2 separate regions of the Homo sapiens genome follow, and region 2 is linked to region 1. Evidence: fine-mapped expression QTL. A gene starts in region 1. The other region holds a variant in brackets. All regions are shown on one strand. Distances are from middle to middle. Region 1 holds the start of CCDC32 (coiled-coil domain containing 32). Region 2 has its middle 22 kb from the start of CCDC32.

Region 1 (11,328 bases):
AAAAAATTTATGACTAAGATCCCAAAAGTAAATGCAACAATAACAAAAATAAATAAATCGGATCTAATTAAACTAAAAACTTCCGTACAGCAAAAGAAATAATCAGAGTAAACAGACAACCCATGGAATGGGAGAAAGTATTTGCAAACTATGTATCTAACAAAGGACTAATATCCAGAATCTACAAGGTGCTCAAACAAATCAGAAAGAAAAAAACAATCCCATCAAAAAGTGGGCAAATGACATGAATAGACATTTCTCAATGGGATTTGAGAAGATATACAAATGGCTAACAAACATATGAAAAAATGCTCAAAATCACTAATCATCAGGGAAATGCAAGTCAAAATGGTGAGCTACCACCTCACCCCAGCCAGAATGGCCACTATTAAAAAGTCAAAAGACAATAGATGTTGGCACGGATGTGGTAAAAAGAGAATCCTTATACACTGCTGATGGGAATGTAAATCAGTACAACCTCTATGGAAAACATATGGAGATTTCTCAAAGAACTAAGAGTAAATCTACCATTTGATCCAGCAATCCCACTACGAGGTGTTTACCCAAAGGAAAAGAAGTCGTTATATCAAAAAGATACCTGCACGCATGTTTCATAATTCATAATTGCAAAGATATGGAACCAACCTAAGTGCCCATCGAGCAATGAGTAGATAAAGAAAATATGGAATATATACACCATAGAACACTACTCAGCCATAAGAAATAATAAAATAATGTCTTCTGCAGCAACTTAGATGGAGCTGGAGGCCATTATCCTCTAAGTGAAGTAACTCAGGAATGGAAAACAAAATGCCATACGTTCTCACTTATAAGTGGGAGCTAAGCTATGGGTACACAAAGGTATACAAAGTGGTATATTGGCCGGGCACGGTGGCTCACACCTGTAATCCCAGCACTCTGGGAGGCCGAGGTGGGTGGATCACGAAGTCAGGAGTTCGAGACCACTCTGACCAACATGGTGAAACTCTCTATCTACTGAAAATACAAAAATGAGCCAGGCGTGGTGGTGGGCGACTGTAATCCCAGCTACTCAGGAGGCTGAGGCAGCAGAATTGCTTGAACCCGTGAGGCGGAGGTTGCAGTGAGTCGAGATCGTGCCACTGCATTCCAGCCTGGGCAACAGAATGAGACTCCGTCTCAAAAAAAAAAAACAAAACAACAACCAAAAAAAAAACAAAACACAAAGTGGTATACTGGACTTTGGAGATTCAGAAGTGGGGAGGTTTGGAGAGGGGTGAGGGATAAAAAACTACACATTGGGTACAATGTCCACTACTTGGGTGATGGGTGCACTAAAATCTCAGACTTCACCACTATACAATTAATCCATGTAGCCAAAAACCGCTTGTACACCAAAAGCTATTGAAATAAAAAAATTAGGGCCAAGCGCGGTGGCACACGCCTGTAATCCCAGCACTTCAGGAGGCCAAGGTAAGCCTTATTCCCAGGTTTGGCTTTGTGAAACATGGATGAATCTCATGGTTGTTCCACAATAAAAGGATATTACAATTCTAAAGACTGCCCCTCACCGCCCTAGACTGATATTTCTTTTTCCCCTAGCATGGGACAATTTGAATCTCTTTCCTGTGTTTGGAATCTCTCTAGATACTTATACTATGGCCGCAGGACAGGGTACTGAAAATGTGTTCAGGAAATATTTTTAAAATAAAATGGCTAACAAGAGGCAGAATGAATCTTATGTCAATATGCTCCCATTCTCAACAATCAATCTATTTATGTAAGTTTTTCAAACTCCAGCATCAGAAATCCACATGTAGCCCTGGGGCCATCACATTTTCTTGCAGGATGGCATAAGGTTTAACACTTTTGAGTTATTTGAATATACGGGCAACCAACAGTAGGCAAGAGGGTTCTACAGAATGCCAAGAAATCAAACACAGAATTTAGATGAACTGGGCAGAGGCAGGAAGTGACAAAAACTGTTTTAAGAGCTGTTCGGGTAGTCACGGCGGCTCATGCCTGTAATCCCAGCACTTTGGGATGCCGAGGCAGGTGGATCACCTGAGGTCAGGCATTCGAGACCAGCCTAGCCAACATGGTGAAATGAAACCCCATCTCTACTAAAAATACAAAAAATTAGCCGGGCATTGTGCCAGGCGCCTGTAATCCCAGCTACTCGGTAGGCTGAGGCAGGAAAATCGCTTGAACCCGGGAGGTGGAGGTTGCCATGAGCTAAGATCACGCCACTGCACTCCAGCCTGGGCAACAAGAGTGAAAGTCTCAAAAAATTAAAAATAAAAATAAAAAAAGATCTGTTCAAGGAAAAGGGGGCTGCTTCCCAACAGCCGGCTTGAAACATCCCTTGGAATTATATCTGACAGATACGTGTGACAGGAATAACAACAACACAAAAGAATAGGAAACCAAGTTTGATGTAACAGAACTTCAATATGCTTCCCTAGAGCCGTCAAACTTACCTAGAGATGCTAAATACACTTCTGAATCCTGCAAGGGAGCCCAAGGCTTTACAGCTGGCTGGACAGCAAAGTCAGCCACCTCCCTCTGGCCTTCACCTTCAGGGCAAGAATCCACAAAGGAGTCTGAGAATGCATTGTTGGCACCATCTTCTTGTTCAGGATTTGGCAGACAGGAACAAATTTCAGCCCAGAGATCCTGGCCAGATCTTGTGGCTGTAGAGTCAGCGCTCTCAAACATTTTCATTTGGAATCTGAGCTATAAAACAGAAGCTCAAGTGAGTAAGAACTGGCTTTAAGAATACAGCATAAGGTTGAGCACAGTGGCTCACGACTGTAATCCCAACACTTTGGGAAGCCGAGGCAGTCAGATCATTTGAGGCCAGCAGTTCGAGACCAGCCTGGGAAACATGGCAAAATCCCATCTCTACTAAAAATACAAAAATTAGACAGGTGTGGTGGCACATGCCTGTAGTCCCAGCTACTCCGGAGGCTGAGGTAGGAGGATCACCTTAGCCCAGGAGATAGAGGCTGCAGTGAGTGGTGATCACGCCATTGCACTCCAGCCTGGGTGACATTGCGAGGCCCTGTCTCACAAATAAATAAATAAAATAAAAATAAAAATGGAATTCCTACAAGCCATACACAAAAGGCAGATACTGTGATTCCACTTATATAAGGTACCTGAGTAGTCAAATTCATAGATACAGAAAATAGGATGGTGGGAGCTGGGGGCTGGGAGGTAGAAAGAATGGGGAATTACTGTTTAATGGGTACACAGTTTCAGTTTGGGAAAATGAAAAAGTTCTGGAGGTGGATGGTAGTTATGGTTGCACAACAATGTGAACACCACTGAATCATACACACAAAAATAGTTAAAATGGTCAATTTTATGCTACATATATTTTAACACACACACACACACACACACACACACACAAATCTGTAGGGCATTTCCAGGTTGGACAACCAGCCTGCACTTTTCTCCAAAGATCTCCAAAATGCAACAGTTCTATCTCCAGTCAATTAAATTCTGTTTTTTTTTCTTTCTTTCTTTCTTTTTTTTTTTTGAGACAGAGTCTCGCTCTGTCGCCCAGGCTGGAGTGCAGTGGCGCTAACTTGGCTCACTGCAACCTCCGCCTCCCGGGTTCACGCCATTCTCCTGCCTCAGCCTCCCAAATAGCTGGGACTACAGGCACTCGCCACCACGCCCGGCTAATTTTTTGCATTTTTTAGTAAAGACGGGGTTTCACCGTTTAGCCAGGGTGGTCTCGATCTCCTGATCTTGTGATCCGCCCGCCTCGGCCTCCCAAAGTGCTGGGATTACAGGCGTGAGCCACCGCGCCCGGCCCCTAAATTCTGTTTTCAACAGAACACAGACTAAAGGTCTTTCCACAGTTCCATATACATGAAGATCCTGCTTGGTAAAAAGTGTCTGTCAGAGAGTACTGTTACAATGCAAGGGCTGTGTGCTCAGCGCATGCAGTTCAGCCGTATGTCTCATGCTCTTATTTTAATACAATCACTGAAAGGTAGGTATTTTCACCATTTTACAGATGAAAAAACAAGTTCAGAAGGGTAACTTGCTCTAGGGCACATTACTGATATGTGGGGAATCCTTGACAGGAAAACCAGATCTGTGCTGCTCCAGAATCCATGTTTTTATCAAATACCATCCTGCTTGTTTGGAAAATATAACGAAAGCAGCCCAAGCACGGGCAGGTAGGAAAAGCTACGCAAAGAGCCTGGAGGCTTTTATAACTATCTAGGCATATGAGACAGGCTGACACCTTCTTTCAAGAGGAGACTTAGAAATCAGGAAGGCTGCCTGAGGCAAGGTCTGAATAATGCCAGGAGACAGAGCCCAGCCAGCGTAAAGGCCGGAAGTAAAAGGGACAGCTATGACACGGCGGTCCTGGGTGAACTGATGTCTAGCGCTACAGTGAACCCCCAACCCGAATTCGTCTAAAGCCACCCAAAACCAAAACTTTGCTCACACCAGAGCCCCGCATGGCCCCTTACCCCAGGGCAGGGCGTCCAGAACCACGCAGGAAATTCCGGCGTCCAGATCCCAGGCCTCAGTCGCTCAGGTCTCTAGGGCTGTCTGGACGGGATGAATCAGGTCCCAAGGCCTCTATGTGGTATTCCGGGGCCGGGCCAGAGTGGGAGATCCAAAACGCTGGGCACCCCAGCCCCTCCTCACTTACCGTAACAGCTGCCCAGTAAACGCTTGGCTCAGCTCTGTCGCCTGTAGCCCGGAGGAAATCGGGAGGGGCGGAGTCCCCTAGTGACGGAGCCCAGGAGTCCTCCAACTACCTTCCCACCCGACGATGTTCTGTGCGTCGATTGGTCGAGAGGAGCTCAGCGTGGTGAAGAAGTGAGGAGCAGCAAGAGGCGAGCGGTGGACGGGGCTCTGGTTGCCGGGAAACGGTGGAGTCACGTGCCCTGAGCATTGCCCCTCCCCTCCCGAGGGCCAGGTTGATTCCTTGCAGATCCAGGGTTCCAGTCCCTGCTTGGATAGGGAAGTCGTTTCCAAGACTTTTGACTTTTCCTAGTCGCCGGAGCCAGTTCACCTCCTCCACAACTTTCTCTGTCGGTGTTTGTCTTCTAAAAATTTCACCCCTTCGTTACCCAAATTAGAGCACTTCGGCGGCTTCTTTCCTTACTCTCCCAGGAGACTCGTGTCTCATTCATCAAATTATGAAGCTTTCCTTCATTCATTTAGTCAATAGATACCAAGCACCTGCTGTGTTCTAAGCATTGTGTTAAGCGTGAAGTTAAGACACATATGACTTGATATAAGTCCTGGAGATCCTTACAGCTTAGTAGTGTAGGAAGGGGGTCCGCCATGGAGGCATAAAAGTTTACAAATAACAGTAAACAGTGATAGACAGCCGGGCGCGGTGACTCACGCCTGTAATCCCAGTACTCTAGGAGGCCGAGGCAGGTGGATCACCTGAGGTCAGGAGTTCGAGACCAGCCTGGGTGAAACATGGTGAAACTCTGTCTCTACTAAAAGTACAAAAATTAGCTGAGCATGGTGGCACATGCCTGGAATCCTAGCTATTCGGGAGGCTCAGGCAGGAGAATCGCTTGAACCGGGAAGGCAGAGGTTGCAGTGAGACAAGATCGCACCACTGCATTCCAACCTGGGCAACAGAGCAAGACTGTCTCAAAAAAAAAAAAGGAGGGGGGCGTTGAGGATTATAGAGTATATGATGGAAGTGTGGCCAGAGTACATAAAGGAGAGAGTGGTCATAAGAAGTGTGTGTCAGAATGCTTTGTTGTTGTAGTTGTTAAAGGAGATGACCTTTGATATCCTTCAGGGGATAGATACCAGCTTGTTCATTGAGATCGACCCCTCCCCATCCCCAGCTTCCAGGATCAACACCAGTTACTCTCTCCCAAGAAACACGTGATGAAAGACATCAGCCAACCATCAGTAGCCAAGTAACTTGGCTGAGGAAATAGTTCTCACTCCAGCCTGGGTGACAGAGCAAGACTCCGTCTCAAAAAAAAAAAGAAAGAAAGAAAAAGAAAACAACAACAACAAAAACAACATAGTTTTAGGATTACAGATGTGAGCCACTGCGCCCAGCTAAAATACAATTTAAAATTCAGTTCCTGGCCGGGCTTGGTGGCTCATGCCTGTAATCCCAGAATTTTGGGAGGCTGAGGGGGTGTGGATCACCTGAGATCAGCAGTTCGAGACCAGCCTGGCCAACATGGTGAAACCCTGTTTCTACTAAAAATACAAAAATTAACTGGGCGTGGAGGCGCATGCCTGTAATCCCAGCTACTCAGGAGGCTGAGGTAGGAGAACTACTTGAACCCAGGAGGCGGAGGTTGCGCCACCACATCCGGCCTGTAATCCTAACACTTTGGGAGGCCAAGGTGGATGGATTGTTTGAGCCCAGTTTGAGACCACCCTAGGCAATGTGGCAAAACCTCGTCTCTACTAAAAATACAAAAAATTAGCCAGTCATGGTGGCACATGTCTGTCGTCTCAGCTACTAGGGAGCCTGAGGTGGGAGGATCACTTCAGTTTGGGAAGTCAAGGCTGCAGTGAGCCAAAATCGTGCCACTGCACTCCAGCCTGGGTGATGGGAGTGAGATCTTGTTTCAAAACTTGTTAAAATTTTAATTAATTTAAATTTAATTAGCCACATGTGGCTATTGTACAGCACATGGCTAATGGTGATCCTATTGTATAGCACAGGATTGGAGAATATTACATAGTTCACAGAACCTCAAGGTGAGTGGAGAGTCAGGCTTTAGGTCTATACAGCCAGGGACAGTATCTGAATCTCACTGAGAGACTGCTCAGGGAACACCCCACAGCCACTGAACATCTATAGCTGGCATTATTCGTCGATTGGGTACTTGACACAAGAACCTCCCCGACTGTTGGCCTCCCAGATTAGATGCCTCCAATGCTACCTTGTTAGACACGGATTTCACACTGAGCCTGCTTCCGCGGCTGTGTGCCTCTGAACCAAAGCCTCTGTCTAAGAGATAGAGCCCAGGTCAAATGCCTATGTCCAAGCTGCAAGAGAGTGTGGGAAGGCTCTGGCTTCTACCTTTTGGGGGCAGTAATGAAATGTGAGAAATTCCCCACCCAAAAGAAGGGTGTTCGGAAGATGCTGGATGTTTACAGAATATGACAAATGTCTACTCTACATGGTCTATGCCAGTGCTTCTCAAGCTTTAATATGCAGAAAAATCACCTGAGGATCATGTTAAAGTGCAGATTCTCATTTAGTAGGTCAGAAGGGGAGGAGGAACAAGATTCTGCTATGTTTTCTGTCTCCACAGTTTTGCCAGGCACTAGTCCAAGTATTTTACTTGAATTAACTAATTTAATTCTCCCACCCCAATCCTATGGAGCAAAGAGGCTAGCTAAGAATACATACTTTTCTTTTGGATAAGGTTCTGCTTTCACTGTAAATATCTTAATGAAATGATGCACTTGAGAGATGATGTCCCTCCTGTGAAGTAGTTTGGTTCTAACATACCCCACAATCAATGGAGAATTCTACCTCTTATTTCTGGAGGTAGTCAGGAATCAGACTTTTCAGCATATGGAGTTCTGCAGCTGTGGATACCTCAGCTGCAGTCCCTCAGTTAGTTTGGTGAGACTAATGACTTGAAGAAGGAATTTAGCTAAAAAAGATTTCCCTTTCTCCTCTCCAGAATACAAATGCCTAGGATAAGAATTAGACTGTCTTTTTTTTTTTTTTTTTTTTGGCAAACTAACATTGAAATGCCTCCTTATTTGGAAGAATCCCACTCTGGATACCAAAGAGGGTTAGATTCTTGGCCGGGCGCGGTGGCTTACGCCTGTAATCCCAGCACTCATAATATAAAAATTAGCCAGGCGTGGTGGTGCGTGCCTGTAGTCCCAGCCACTCAGGAGGCTGAGGCAGAAGAATGGCTTGAACTCAGGAGGCGGAGGTTGCAGTGAGGTGAAATCGCTCCACTGCACTCCAGCCTGGGCGACAGAGCAAGACTCCGTCTCAAAAAAAAAAAAAAAAAAAAAAAAAAAGAGGGTTAAATTCTTCCATCTCCAGGCACCCTGGAAGTGAGGGCTCAGAGCAATGAGGTTTGGCTGATGGAAGTCCTCCCCTGCAGGACTCTTAACCTTGGAAGAGGGACACAGAGACACAGGGAGATTTAGGGGTCTCCAAGGGGTGGCAGGGCTGCAGGAAAAAGAGTCCTTTGGCACAACATAGTTTCTTGTGTCTACTGCATCCCAACTGGGTTTCTTCCCTGACATGTCTGAAGCCAGGCTCTCAAAAGGCTTGGTTTCCCTTGATTTGGCCCTTTTTCTGAGCCTAGTCTCCAGTTGTCTTGTGAATTCTATGAGGCACTAATATACTTTCCATAATTCTATCTCTGATGAAATTAGCCAGAGTTGGTTTATTTTGCACTTAAGAACCCTCGCCATATATCCTCTGATCTATTTGCAGTTTTAATCTCAGGATGGAAGCATGTGGGAGGCGAATGGGGATCACTAATCCTTCTCATGCTGTTAGGGGGAAACACAGGTGTGAACACATTGCTTCTGGGGTGCTTGTGTGTGTTTTAAATACATATATAACAATCTTACTGAGATACAAGTCACATACTATAATATTGACCCTTTTAAAATATAGAATACAGTGGGTTTTAGTATATTCGCAGAGTTTAGCAATCTTTATTCTGGTTGTTAGTTTTTGTTTTGTCTTAAATAAAGCTCCTTTCAAGCGTTTCTTCAGACCCAAGGGACTACTCGGAATTTACACGACCTACTCCTGTCATGGCCTTTACACGGAGCAATTCCAAGGGTTTCCTTTATAAATAACGTCGTATCTCCCTAATAGGAAGACGTCTGAGTAAGGTCACTTTTGGTGAGACATTTACAGTCTCTCATCTCTAAGCTCACTCAATTCACCTAATTTAATTCGAGCAGCTCACTCATTCGCTCACTTATCGCAGACCCCGCCTCGGGACTGGGCCTCCCTGATTCGCTGGGGCCGAGTGACGTCCTCAGATCGCGACCCTGGGAGTGGAGTGGGGGCAGCGTGGTTATGTGGCTGGACCGCCGCGGATGGCTCAGGGTTCTTGGACATTGGCGCTACGACCTTAGGCGCCCTAGCTTTACCAGGACTTGGAGTGGCGATAAGGGCCCAATGGCAGAAACAGTGTCTACCCAGGTTGGGACAGAGGGCGGGCTGAGGGCTTCGCATCAGCAAAACGGTGACGCTGGTGGCGACGCGAAGGTTGAGCTGTCCCCCGGGCCCCCGAAGCCGGCTGGCCGGGAAGTGGAGCCGGCCCCAGTAGGCGGGGAGCATCCCTCGGCTGCAGCCCCAGGCCCGGGCAAGCATAAGAAGCGGCGGGGCGCAACCAGGGAGCGTGTCGTGCCGCCCCCGAAGAAGCGGCGGACCGGGGTGAGCTTCGGAGATGAGCACTTTGCAGAAACCAGTTATTACTTCGAGGGCGGCCTGCGTAAGGTGCGGCCCTATTACTTTGACTTCCGGACCTACTGCAAAGGTCGCTGGGTGGGCCACAGCTTGCTGCACGTCTTCAGTACCGAGTTCCGAGCTCAGCCCCTGGCCTACTATGAGGCCGCGGTCCGGGCGGGCCGCCTGCAACTCAACGAGAAGCCGGTGCAGGACCTCAACATCGTGCTCAAGGTGGAGTCCTGATGGGGCTGGCCAGAAGCGGGCGAGGAAAAGGGGCCGGGTTTTGTTTTGTTTTGTTTTGTTTTTTAGTCTTAGTAAAGCATAGGTACTGGATTAAAATCATGGCAATTCTAAAGCGTTCTCGCTTTCATTTGGAACACTATTTTAGCCCGTTTCCCACCTCCGCAAGTGGCCAGGGTGTCTGTGCTTCAGGACTCAGCCTGTTTATCCTCTTCCTCAAGGCAGCTTCCTTGTTTCCAAGGGACAGAAGTTGGAATTTTCATAATTCCTTTAAACACCGTCTTGTGGCAAGGGCACTGATCACTTTACCCTGCGTTGTAGATCTCTGTGCAAATAGTAATAATAGGGGCTATCATTTATGTCTCTTTACTGTGTGCTGGGCACAAAGTTAAACATTGTATGTCCACTAATTCTAATGACAGCCTTGTGAAGTAGGTATTGCCACTCCATTTTACCTCTGAGGAAACTAAGGAAACTCACAGGGGTAAGGCTATCAACAGTGCCACTACCAAAGCCTATGTTCCTATAACTACTACTTAAACTATTTAACATAGAGTTATGAGATGTCAGGGATAGAGACTAGAATTGTTTAGCCCAGTGCTTTGACTCCTTTAAAATTCCATCACATCTATGAGGTACCAGACACCCCTGTCAGAAGTAACACTGTTTACCTCTCAGTAACACTAGTTTACCATGGTTGTGAGTGGAGAAAAGGCGATTACAGCATTTGGGGAATGGATGGTTTTGGAGTAACTTGTTCCATTGATCAATCGATTTGCGTCAATATATCATACATTGACGAATTCCCTCTCCTATCCCAATTTCTAAAGCACAGATCTGGTCTAACCCTCACATTCCACAGGAAGCAGAGACCCAGAAAAGATAAATGACTTGCCCAAGAGCATGTAGCGAGCCTGTGGCAAATCCTGGTCTAGAGCCCATATCCCTGGACTTAAGCCTTAGTTTTGTTTGTTCAAGATCGTAATAAGTGATGATTTATGGAGGTTTTTTCCTCCATTAAAAAAATTTTACCTTGATTATTTATTTTTTTTTTTTTTGAGACAGAGTCTTGCTCTGTTGCCCAGGCTGGCGTGTAGTGGCGCGATCTCGGCTCACTGCAACCTCCGCCTCCCAGGTTCAAGCGATTCTCCTGCCTCAGTCTCCCAAGTAGCTGGGATTACAGGCATGTGCCACCACGCCTGCTAATTTTTGTATTTTTAGTAGAGACAGAGTTTGACCATGTTAGCCAGGATGGTCTTGATCTCGTGATCCACCCACCTCAGCCTCCCAAAGTGCTGGGATTAGAGGCGTGAGCCACTGCGCCCGGCTAAAAAATTTTACCTTTTAAATACCTTTATTGTAGAGAAAATACAATTAGCAAAGCCAAAAAACATTCATAATCTAACCACCCAGAGATAACACAGTTAACATTTTTGCATATGTCCTTCCAGTACTTTTTCAGTGCCAGCTATCTGCCTGTGTCTGTCTGTATTTTTACAAAATGAGATCACACTCTGCACACTGCTTTTTCAGCCCAAGATGTGCTTTCACCATTTTTCCATGTCAGTGAGGAACAGGGGAAGCTGGATATGAAGTTGACTGATTACAGGCTGCGGTCCCTAGGCTGACTTATTACCTATGTCTTTGACAGGACAATGATTTCTTGCGGAACACAGTGCACAGGCATG
Region 2 (11,865 bases), 23 kb before region 1:
CTAACAGGATGACCCACCTTCCCCAACTTACACCACCTCAGGCGCTGGGCAGATGCTCTGTGACTTTATCAGTATCCCTGGGGAGTGGTGCCAGCCCCAGGTGCTGAGCTGGAGGGGGGATCACAGAGGAATCAAGGGACTCAAGGAGGGAAGGCAGCTGGAGGGAAGGGGCTTGGGCAGAACGAAAGAGGAAGGGGCTTGGCCCTGGGCTCTCATCCACTCCTGAAGCCCATGCAGGGAACAGTGAATGATGCAGTGCCTGTGTCCCAAGGTCCCAGCCTCGTGTGGGACCATCGGGGCACTAGCAGCCTTCCTGTCTCCTACCCCTTGCTCTGGGGGCCACGGGTACATGAAGGTTTCCAGAACCCAGGGAAGAGGCCAGAGGTTCAGTAATAGCTCTACAGGAGCATAACTAGAGAGTGATGACCAACTCCCAAAATACAGAATGTTTATTTTGAGCTCCACAATACATGTCAGTCAGAGAAAGGTTCGAGTCTCAAAAATGCTGGCTCTTGGCCAGACGCGTTGGCTCATGCCTGTAATCCCAGCACTTTGGGAGGCTGAGGTGGGCGGATCACTTGAGGTCAGGAGTTCAAGACCAACCTGGCCAACATGGTGAAACCCCGTCTCTACTAAAAATAGAAAAATTAGCCAGGCATGGCAGTGGGCACCTGTAATCTCAGCTACTGGGGAGGCTGAGGCAGGAGAATTGCTTGAACCTGGGAGGTGGAGGTTGCAGTGAGCCGAGATGGTGCCACTGCATTCCAGCCTGGGTGATAGAGTAAGACTCCGCCTCAGAAAAAAAAGCTGGAGCTTCAGTAATGCTGACCACTTTTAAATATATGTAATCAGCACTCATTTCAAATAGTCTTTTAGCAGCATGCTAACTTATGACTACAAGGTCTGCGGTCCCCTCTCCTGCCAAGTGTCCCCTTCCCCTGTACAAGTGGCCCAGAGGCAGTTCTCCAAGGGGATTTGGGGACTGTACTCCTGTATAAAAGAAAGCCTGTGGTGCTGCTGTGTTAAGTTACCCACCTATTGGCTGGTGAGTGCCCCCTTCATGTCTTTCCTGAAGGTAGATTTTCAGTAAATAAGAAGACCACATTTTTTATTCTGAGGCTATGGTCTTGTTTTCCATAGCAGTGTGTCCCAGAAAGCTCGAGATCTCTTGCATGGCCATGATTTGAAAGTCTGGAAATGGGATCCACTGGTAAGCTATGTTCTCCATGGAGCTCACCTGAGGCTGCCCTGCACCCCTCGCCTCTCCCTCAAGGGGTCACAGGGCACCTGTGGGCACCTCTTTCTGCTGCCTGTATGTCCGCCCCAATAGGAGAAAGAGGGGGCATAGAGGGAAATGAGTCTCCTTCACTGGTTCGAATTAGCGGGAAGCCTGTGAGTCCAAGCCCCCCTCAAATTCAGGCAACGACCAATCCGGCTTCCCTTTCTGTGCCCTTGTCAGAGAAGAGGCCGCTGGGCCCAGGCCTGTCCCTTTCCTCCAACCTGGCAGGCATGGGAAGCAACTGTGGAGGAATTTTAGAGCTGGGAGAAGCAGAGGGAGGATTGGAAAGCCTTTTATTTTCTTTGAACTTTTCCATTTAAAATATTTCTATTTTTAAAAGAATAATTTGGTTCTTTTTAATTTAGCATGTTTTCCTTAGAGCAATAAAGGCTTTTGCAATATGGAAAAGGTGACATTTGATCTGAAGGAGTCTGGGGGAGCTCTGAGTATAGGGAACTGACCTTTAGTACCCACCCATGAGCGCTGCCAACTGGGGGCCTGAGGTCTAGTGCTTGCCACAGGTGGGCTCACCGCAGGAGCCTGCTGGTGACCAGCCTGTCCCTCTTCCCATGGGTTCTCTAGCTGGCTCTGACTAAAGCCCTGTCTCTCTCTTGGCTCTCTCGCCAGCTGTCCCACTTCTCAGCTTCTCCCTTTCTTCATTCAGCCCAGCCCAGAAGCCCTGAGGGCTGGGCCAGAGGGAAGTAGTTGTTGCTGTTTCTCCCCAGCTCCCGCTCAAACCTGACACCACAGAAAGGTCAATCCCACATGGTTCTGCACATCCCTGCCTGGCCCGCCCTGGCTGTTACCATGACGACTGCTGGGCTGGAAATGTCCTTCGCCACCTCTGCTCAGCACACTGGTGGCTGTCCCACGCTCCATCCTCAGAAAAGCTGCTGCTGCCAGGGGTTCTGGAGTTACAGGGCCTATGGGAATAAGACAGACCGACAGAGACGAGGAAGATAGACAGATACAGTCAGAGGCACACACTAACAGAGTCAAAGAGAGACAGGCATACATAGGAGCACCGAGAGTGCGAAGGTGCGAGGAAGTGAGGTGTCGACACAGCCTCAGCCGTGCAGGACTGCAGGAAAAATAAAGCAAAGTGGAGCCTGAGACAGAGACAAGAGACAAACGGAGGCACAGGGGACACGGGGGCCCGTGGCACCACAGCAAGAGGCCAGGCAGAGGAAGAGAGGAAAAGCAGAGACCAAGGCAGTCAGCTCTCCGCTGCCCCTGCTCCCATCCCAGGAAATTTCCTTGCCCAATAGGTCTCTCTTGGCCTCCTGCTCTCTGAGATGTCAGGCAGGGTCTGTCTGAGTTGATTTGTTGGCCAGGCTGTTCCTCTGGCTGGACAACATTTGCCACCTTAAGAGGGGCCCTCCCCTAATAAGAGTGATCAAACTGTTGCCACACACACACACACACACACACACACACACACACACACACCCCGCTCCTTGCCCTTGATTCCATGTCACCCCAAACTCATCATAAATACCTACTCAGCCTCACTTCGCCCAGGTGGTGAAATGGGCATTGGAACAGTGTGAAGGGTTGATTTTCAAATTGCGGCAAAATCTAGGGAATAAGTGTGAACCTCAGAGATGATGATGCCCCTGGAGGTAATGAATGGGCAAGAGGAGGGAAAAGACAGACTGAACAGTGAGTACCAGACAAGAGTGTGGGGCCCAGAGGGTGGGAGAAGGGATCAGGGAAGAGAGAGACAGGCTCAGAGCTCTGACTAGGGCAATCCAGAGGAGTGGTAACAGGAGGGCTGGGCCAACTGGATTGGCCTTTAGTGCCTGGCAGGGAACACTGCCTCTAACATCAGTGCCATGATTTCCCATCTTTGAAGTGTCTCCAAGGCTTTGAGGGAGGCTTCTCAGGGTCTTTGAATTCTTTGTCGTTCTTCTTAGCATTTTTTTCTTTTTCTTTTTCTTTTTTTTTTTTTTTGAGGTGGCGTCTCGCTCTGTTGTGCAGGCTGGAGAGCAATGGCGTGATATCGGCTCACTGCAACCTCCGCCTCCTGGGTTCAAGCTATTCTCCTTCTTCAGCCTCCCGAGTAGCTGGGATTACAGGCGCCTGCCACCATGCCTGGGTAATTTTTTGTATTTTTAGTAGAAACAGGGTTTCACCATGCTGGCCAGGCTGGTCTCCAACTCCTGGCCTCAGGTGATCTGCCTGCCTTGGCCTCCCAAAGTGCTGGGATTACAGGTGTGAGCCACTGCACCCAGCCCAGCATTTTCTTCTTAGAAAATGATTAGGCTGTCAATACAGGAAACTCTGGGGCCGGGCCAGTCTCTCATCTATCCTAACCTTGACCACAGTGTGAAAGGACAGTAGAGTCAGTGCCCCTAATGTCACCATGTTCCAAGCTCACATATGAGTGTTGAACAGGTGCCAGCCTGGAGCGTCCATTGCCCTGGTGCCCTCAGTCCAGAGAGCCCAGTGAGAAGCTGGGCCAAGAAGGAAGACTTGAACCCAAGAGAGCAGTGTGTGGACATTCAGACTAGGCTGGGCTGAACTCACCCCCGGGGAGAACCACTTCCCACACTGGGCCACAGAGACCAAAATGTCAAAACCAAAGGTCCCGCACAGCCCTGGAAGGCGGATCCTGGCCTGGGCGGGAAAGAGACTGTGCCAGATGCTCACGCGCTGCCTCACATCCCTCCAGCCCATTTCTGTGACCAGCCGCAGCTGCAGCGGATGCTTCTGGTACATGCTCAGTTTCCCTCCTCTCTCCTCTGCGTGAGGCTTTTCTTAGCCCCTGCAGGGCTGCCTGAAAGTGGCAGGGGCTTAATACCTCCAAAGAGCAAACCTCAACCAATGAAGGATGGGCACTGGTGGAACTGCAGCCCAGATGTGCCCCGTCAGTCAGTGGCAAAATTCTGAGCTGTAATATTTTTTTTTTTTTTTTTGAGACGGAGTCTCGCTCTGTCACCCAGGCTGGAGTGCAGTGGCTCCATCTCGGCTCACTGCAACCTCCGCCTCCCGGGTTCAAGCAATTCTCCTGTCTCATCCTCCCAAGTAGCTGGGACTATGGGCACACACCACCAACCCGGCTAATTTTTGTATTTTTAGTAGAGACATGGTTTTGCCATGTTGGCCAGGCTGGTCTCGAACTCCTGACCTCAGGTGATCCACCCGCCTCAGCCTCCCACAGTGTTGGGATTACAGGCCACCGCGCTTAGCCTAAGCCATAATCTTTATGTCTCCTCAGAGTGATCCCAGGGCGACAGCCCTAACTACCCACAGTGGACCTACTCAACACAGGGAGCTGTCTCATTCTCCTCCCTCCCTCACTCCTGCTCACCCCCTAAAATCAGCCACCTACATACAGGTCCTTGTCTCAAGGTACACGTTCAGAGAACATAAAACAGCACAAGAGCGACCTTTTTGTGATCTTCCAACCCAAGAGTCTGTCCCTCAGGGTTGAGCTAAGATAAGAACTGTTGGAGGGCTCTGCCTCTGACCACTGACTGGTAGGTGATCAGGTGTTTGTCATTATTATCTAGGGAGGAGAAAGAAGAACTCACCAGCTCTCCCTCCCAAATGCTGGGGAGACCAGGGCTGACTTAACAGCAGCAAGCCCCCATAGGTCTCCAGTAGCCAACCACAGATTTTCATAATTGGAAAGGACCTTAGGGGTGACCTGATCCAACTTTCTACACAATGCAGGAATCCCCTTTACAACCTTTCTGACATCTGCTGACACACCTCCAGTGACAGGGAATTACTATCTTCTACAAGGCCACCCTATTGTTGAACAGCTATTAGAAAGTTCTTAACACTGAATGGTAATTGGTCTTCCTGAAACTCCCTGCCATTGGTCCTAGTTTGTCCTTTGTACTTCAGTGTGTCTCAGCTTTCTACCCAATACTCCTTCAAATATTTTAAAGCCAACCGGGTCTCTCTTAAATCTCTTTTCTATGGAAAACAATCTTATTGTCTTGTCCTGTCTTCAAATAACTCGATCTGAGCCTGCTCACCCTGGACCCCTCCTCTAGGGAGCATTGCAGTTTGTCGATGTTCCTCTGTAGGAAAAGACCCTGTTGCAAGAATGGCACCACCTTGAAGCAAAACTGCCATAATGACTGATGTTTGACTCCTGCATACCAAGGCATTCCTGTGGCAAGGTCAAGAAACAATGCCTGGGCCGGGCGCAGTGGCTCATGCCTGTAATCCCAGCACTTTGGGAGGCTGAGGCGGGAGGATCACGAGGTCAGGAGATTGAGACCATCCTGGCTAA[T/C]ACGGTGAAACCCCGTCTCTACTAAAAAATACAAAAAATTAGCCGGGCATGGTGGCAGGCACCTGTAGTCCCAGCTACTCAGGAGGTTGAGGCAGGAGAATGGTGTGAACCCGGGAGCAGAGGTTGCCACTGCACTCCAGCCTGGGGGACAGAGCGAGACTTTGTCTCAAAAGAAAAAAAAAAAAAAGATGCCTGGCCAGGTGGGGTGGCTCATGCCTATAATCCCAACACTTTGGAAGGCCAAGGTAGGAGGATTGTTTGAGCCCAGGAGTATGAGACCAGCCTGGGCAACATACTGAGACTTTTCTTAAAAAAAAAAAAAAATTAGCCAGGGGTATAGTCACAGCAAACTCAGGAGGCTGAGGAGGGAGGACAGCTTGAGCCCGGGAGGTTGAGGCTGCAATAAGCTGTGATAATGCCACTACACTCTAGCCTGGGTGACAGAGCCAGACTCTGTCTAAAAAAAAAAACAAAATGGAAAAGAAAGAGAAAAAAGAAAAGAAAGAATGCCTGTAGCATAAATAACCCCTCATAAAGATGCTTATCTAACCTCCCCAGTGGTCATGAAACTTGCAATAAAGTCTGAGGTGTGACCAGCTGCACATGTTTTCCCCTAAAAACTTGTTATACAAAGGATACTTTCTGGAGGGCGGGCATGGAAACCACCATCTCGTGACCAACCAAGGTATGGCTTCTGTGCATAAGTTTCTATTAAGCATTTATCTCTGAGAAACTAGATTCGTCAGCCTCTCTCTCTGTTTTGTTTTTGTTGTTGTTGTTGTTGTTTTTTTGAGACAGAGTCCCACTCTGTCGCCCAGGCTGGAATGCAGTGGCATGATCTTGGCTCACTGCAACCTCTGCCTCCCAGGTTCAAGAGATTCTTCTGCCTCAGCCTCCTAAGTAGCTGGGAGTACAGGCGCACGCCACCGTGCCCAGCTAATTTTTGTATTTTTAGTAGAAATGGAGTTTCCCCATATTGGCCAGGCTGGTCTCAAACTCCTAACCTCGTGATCCACCCACCTCAGCCTCCCAAAGTGCTGGGATTACAGGTATGAGCCACTGCACCCGGGCTTGTCAGCCTGTTTCTTTGGCCCCTCAGCTCTCTTGGCCTTTAGGGGTAGGTTTGCATAGACCTGCTCACTGCAGAACATCCTCTTGCAATGTGGTGCCCAGACGATGCTTTCAGAGAGGCATGACCACTGCAGAATATATTTTTACACTACTATGTCCCAGGTACACAGGTACATTTCCACTATTGATTCCTAGAATTATAACTTTTTTTTAGCAGCACATAACACTGCTGACTCCATTGAACTGTTAAGACACTGAACACCTGTTTGGGGTTTTCCATACCACTTTCCCCTTTCTTCAGCCAACAGCAATCCTCTTTCACTTCCCATTCTCATATGGTTCTGGTGGGACTGTTTACCACAGTATCCTGTACCCCTAACCATAGATCTTGCCCTTGTCATAGTCAGTGCTCCAATGATGAGCATGTGACCCAGGCCAAGCCAATCTGAGTCCCTCCCCTGGAATGTATTTATTTATTTGAGACAGGATCTTGCTCTGTCGCCCAGGATAGGGTGCGGTAGGGCAATCATAGCTCACTGCAGCCTCAACCTCCTGGGCTCAAGCAATCCTCCCACCTCAGCATCCCGAGTAGCTGGACTACAGGCATGCAGTACCACGCCAGGCTAATTTTTAAATTTTTTTTTTGTAGAGACGGGGTCTCTTTCTGTTGCCCAGGCTGGTCTCAAACTCCTGGGCTCAAGTGATCCTCCCACCTTGGCCTCCCAAAGTGCTGGGATTGTTAAGCCTAAACCACTGTGCGGAGCCCCCTGGCATCTATTATATGGGGTTGGAAAGTGTTATCTTTCCTCTGGACTTCCTAAACTGGAATCATGTCAGCCCAGAGCTCCCTGTGCTATACCAACACACAGAGAGAGTCAACAGTGGGAGGAAGAGAGGCTAAAGATACTGCTGGAGTCCTGAGGTCCAGCTAACTGAAGCCAGCTCTATATGTCTTAGACTAGAATTGAGTCCGGCTTGGATTTTTTTTTTTCAACAGCCTTGGAAAACTTTCCAGAGTCTGGCTTCTTGGCTTCTGTCACTAGAACAAACTAATAAATACTCTGTTCTTCTCTGTCCTCTAGTTGTGTAGTTAATTTCTGATCCCAAATGAAAGATTTCACATTTATCTGTATCATGTTTCATACTTTGTCCCATCACTCTAGTCTATAGAAAAATTTTAGAATTGTTATTCTTTTATTCAATTACCTACTCCTCTCACTTTTGATAAGGTTACCTTCTATTCACTCAACCAAATCATTGATAAAGATGTTGAGCTGAACAGAGGAAAAAGAAACCAACAACATGTCAGTTTATCAATCCAAGAGTTTACCTTTGGGATGATTGTTCTAACAACTGTGGGTCTCCTCTACCATACTCTTACCCAATGTACACTCCGCATCCTGTCTGCCTTGATCAGGCACCATGCTGAAGACCACACTGCACCTTGGCATTCTGCTAAGCCAATATTTGATGGTCTCATCCCCAAAGGATGTAAGATTAAAGAGCCAAAACTGGTCCTGGAAATATCTGTTCTTTAAAATGCTCATAAACTCTCAGTAACCTATCTGCTTTCTTCTGCACACATACACACACACACACACACAATCCCTCTCACCTTTGCCTCCTCCCTTTCTACTTATCTGCTAAAGAAGTAATTTTTAAAAGTGGATTACGTCAAAATGAAGGGAGGAGAGAGTCAGTTTGTTTGGGAAAAGAAAACCTTTAGAGCAATGTGTGACACAACACTTGGGACAGAGGAGGTGGAGAGAATGGGGGGAGATGAACATCTCTCTGCCACACATTGACTAATAGGAATAGTACATTGAGGGCTTAGGAAAGGCTGGGGCTGGAGGCTAGGGAATCGAGGAGCAAAGGCCCACTACTGTTCCACTTTGGCCTGTAGGAGGTGGTGTGGGGTACCAGCAGAGAGCACAGGCACTGGAGAGCTAGGCTTGGCTCTCCATCCTGGCACCACCACCTGCTAACCACCCACTACTACCTGCTGAGAGCCTGCAGCTCCCAAGACAGACACTCAGGTGCCACACTTCCCTCCACTCAGTGACCAAGCCTCAGTGGTTCTCCTTGCAAATGCTCCCATATCCACTTCTCTCTAGCCTTGCCGCCACACCTCATTCATGTAACTATCATCTCTTCAAAGATTTATTCTGCCTCATTCTCTCTCTCTTCACCTTCTGAGGCTGGAATCACATGTATATTAGACTGTTATTGTCCCACAGCTCTTATAGGTTTTGCTTTGTTTTGCTTTTCCCCCATCCCAGTTTCTCTTTGTGTTTTAGTTCAGAGAATTTTTATTGACCAGTTCAAGTTCACTGGTTCTTCACCTATGCCTACCTACTGAAAAGCCTGTGGAAGCAATTCATCTCTAATATCATGTTTATTTCTAGCATTTCCATTTGACTTTATTTTTTCTTTTTCTTTCCTTTTTTTTTTTTTTCTGAGATAGGGTCTCACCCTGTCACCCAGGCTGGAGGGCAGTGGCATGATCTTGGCTCACTGCAACCTCCGCCTTCTGGGTTCAAGTGATTCTCTTGCCTCAGCCTCCCAAGTAGCTGGGACCACAGGCACGAGCCACCATGCCTGGCTAATTTCTGTATTTTTTGGTGAGATGAGGTCTCATGTTGCCCAGGCTGGTCTCAAACTCCTGTGCTCATGTGCTCCTCCTGCCTTGGCCTCCCAAAGTGCTGGTATTACAGGCATGAGCCACCACGTCCAGCCCCATTTCACTTTCTCTTAGTTTCCATGTCTCTGCCAAAATTCCCTATCTGTTCATGCAAGTTGCCCACCCTTCCCCACCAGACCCCATAGTAATTATAATTATTTTAAGTCCCTCTGTGATAGTTCCAACATCTGTGTCATTTGTGAGTCTGGTTCTGTTGATTCATCTTCTGATAATGGATTGGGTTGTTTTCTTCTTGTCTTTTTGTGTGTTTTGCAATTTTTTTTTTTTTGAGACAGTCTTGCTCTGTTGCCCAGGCTGGAGTGTAGTGGGGCCATCTCAGCTCACTGCAACCTCACCCTCCCAGGTTCAAGTGATTCTCCTGCCTCAGCCTGTGGAGTAGCTGGGACTACAGGCACACACCACCAACACCTGGCTAATTTTTGTATTTTTAGTAGAGATGGGGTTTCGCCATGTTGACCAGGCTGGTCTGAAACTCCTGACCTCAGGTGATACACCTGTCTCGGCCTCCCAAAGTGCTAGGATTACAAGTGTGAGCCATAGCGCCTGACCTATGTTTTGCAGTTTTTTAACTGAATGCCCATGGTGTATAAAACAGCAGAGACTGAGGTAAATAGTATCTGTATCTGGGAGTGGGGCTGCCTCTTCTGTCAGCCTGTTGGTCTGGGGGGTTGAGTCAGTCTTGTTAGGAATTGGACAGGGTTTGGGTTTGGTTGTGCTCTCATTACCTTCAGTGCACCCCAGGTTTCAAATTCCTCTAGTGGTGGGCTGCTTAGAGTGGGGACTGGGGTGTCAGGGCTTCCTCAGTGCTGCTGTCCCACACTCAGCTTTTCAGCTGGCAGAAGACTTCTGTTGCTTGTGATCTGGTGCCAGGCTCAGGCAGGGCAGGGCAGGGTTGATTCTGTTACCCTGGCCCGGCTTCAGTCTTAAATAGGTCCTAGGCACCCGAGCTTCAGCAGTGGGACTTTCTCAGTGTTTCTGTCCCTCTTCCCTATGGAAGCCAAACTCTGCCTTATATGTGGTTCATCTGGGATTAGCCAAAGTTCTTGCCCTCCCCACAACAGAGTGGACCTTCGCTTGAATCTTCAGCCCAGGACAGTTTCCTGCTTCTGCCCCTGGGTAGGGGGTTTCTGCTTCTAGTCCCAGGAGCAATGGGTCTTTGCCTGTTCAAGAAGGGCAAGAAGGTTTTGACACCTCACCAGAAGCAGATAAGTTTTGCTTTTATTCCTCCCACTGAAGCAAAAGTTTGTTACCCCTCCCGCCATGGCTTAAGGCTTTTGCTTAAAGGAGAGGATTGTGGAAGTTGAGGCTTTTTGCCTTCCACCAGCAGCCGCCTTGATCAACCTCTGCATGCATGCATCACCAAGGAAGAACAGTCCCTCCCTTTCCTGACCTGTTCCCACTTTTCTCCATGAACCCCAGGGGAGGCCTGTACAAAAAAGGTTGCCTTTGCACGCACTCTCGTGTCTAGAATCCTATTCAGCTATTCTAAACTGATATGCTAGGCCACATGTGGACTTTACAAATTTGTTAACATTTTTATTGTCTTTTTCTTACCCACTTGTAAGACAGCCACATCTTTGCCAAAGTTGAAACAGTTGATGGGTCACTATCTCTCCTTCTATTTCCTCTCACTCCTATTCATTTCTATGAACTCAGCTCCCCTAACACTATCTCTCCTTTATTTGGTTGCCTTGTGGCCTTGGCTTTCTGATGGGCTCAAGAAAAGTTATGATTTTGTACCTGCTTTTTCACATTGTTAGGACGGAAGGGACATTTTCTTGCAGTATTCTACATCCTAAGTGGAAAAAGTCCTCAAGTACTATCATCTCTTTCTTAGACAACTGCAACCACCTCACAGCTGGTCTCCTGTGTCCAATTTTGCCCCTCTCCCTACTGTAGCCAGCATAAGTATTAAATTCTGCAACCATCGCAGACTAGAGGGGGCTGCAAAATAAAATACTTAAAAATTAGCTACTTAAAACCTGAAGCTTAGCTTATGGTGCATTGGTTATCTATTGCTGAGTAACAAATCAACCCAAAACTTAGTGGTTTAAACCATGACATTTATTGAATCTGTAGGGCTTTGCAGGGACAGCTTGTCTCTGTACCACTTGGTGTCACCTGGGACAGCTTAAAAACTGGGGGATGAAATCATTTGAATTACTTACTTATATGTCTGATGCCTGGGGTGGGAAGACTCAAACAGCTGGGACTCCCTGGGCTTCTCTACCTCTCTGTGGCCGACTTCTTACATGCCGGCTCAGAACTACCAAGGAGCATGCTGAGAGAGAGAGAGAGAGACCCCAGGTGGAGTGCTTTCATGACCTTGCCTCAGAAGTCCCATTATTTATGCTGTACTCTATTAGCAAGGCAGTTACATAGGTCTGCCCAGGTTCAAAGGGAGGGAATATTGACTGAAGATCTCAGGGGAGGAGTGTCCACATCACACTGGAACATGAATGAGTGGGATGGGATACACTGATTTGGCCATCTTTGGAAAATACAATCTGCCATACATGATTCTACTTGTTCTGTAATAGTGAAAAAATAACAAGAAAAATTGAA

What was found.
Region 2: its variant is fine-mapped to the expression of CCDC32 in whole blood (TOPMed, PIP 0.97).

Annotation. Positions count from the first base shown.
Region 1 is chr15:40,560,313-40,571,640 of GRCh38, forward strand. It overlaps CCDC32 (coiled-coil domain containing 32), which reads right to left and starts at 4,730. Exons shown (of 4, transcript NM_001080792.4): 1 at 4,664-4,730; 2 at 2,460-2,715. The coding sequence starts at 2,703. It overlaps RPUSD2 (RNA pseudouridine synthase domain containing 2), which reads left to right and starts at 8,987. Exons shown (of 3, transcript NM_152260.3): 1 at 8,987-9,631; 2 at 11,292-11,328. The coding sequence starts at 9,026. RefSeq lists enhancers at 5,129-5,178, 5,658-5,952, 8,929-9,258, 9,320-9,819, 9,569-9,618 and a silencer at 6,905-7,084.
Region 2 is chr15:40,537,154-40,549,018 of GRCh38, forward strand. It overlaps a transcript of CCDC32 not described here. Among named protein-coding and RNA genes, the nearest start is that of CCDC32, 22 kb to the right of the region's middle. RefSeq lists a silencer at 6,534-6,633 and an enhancer at 6,784-6,883. The variant T/C (reference allele first, on the strand shown) is at 5,529.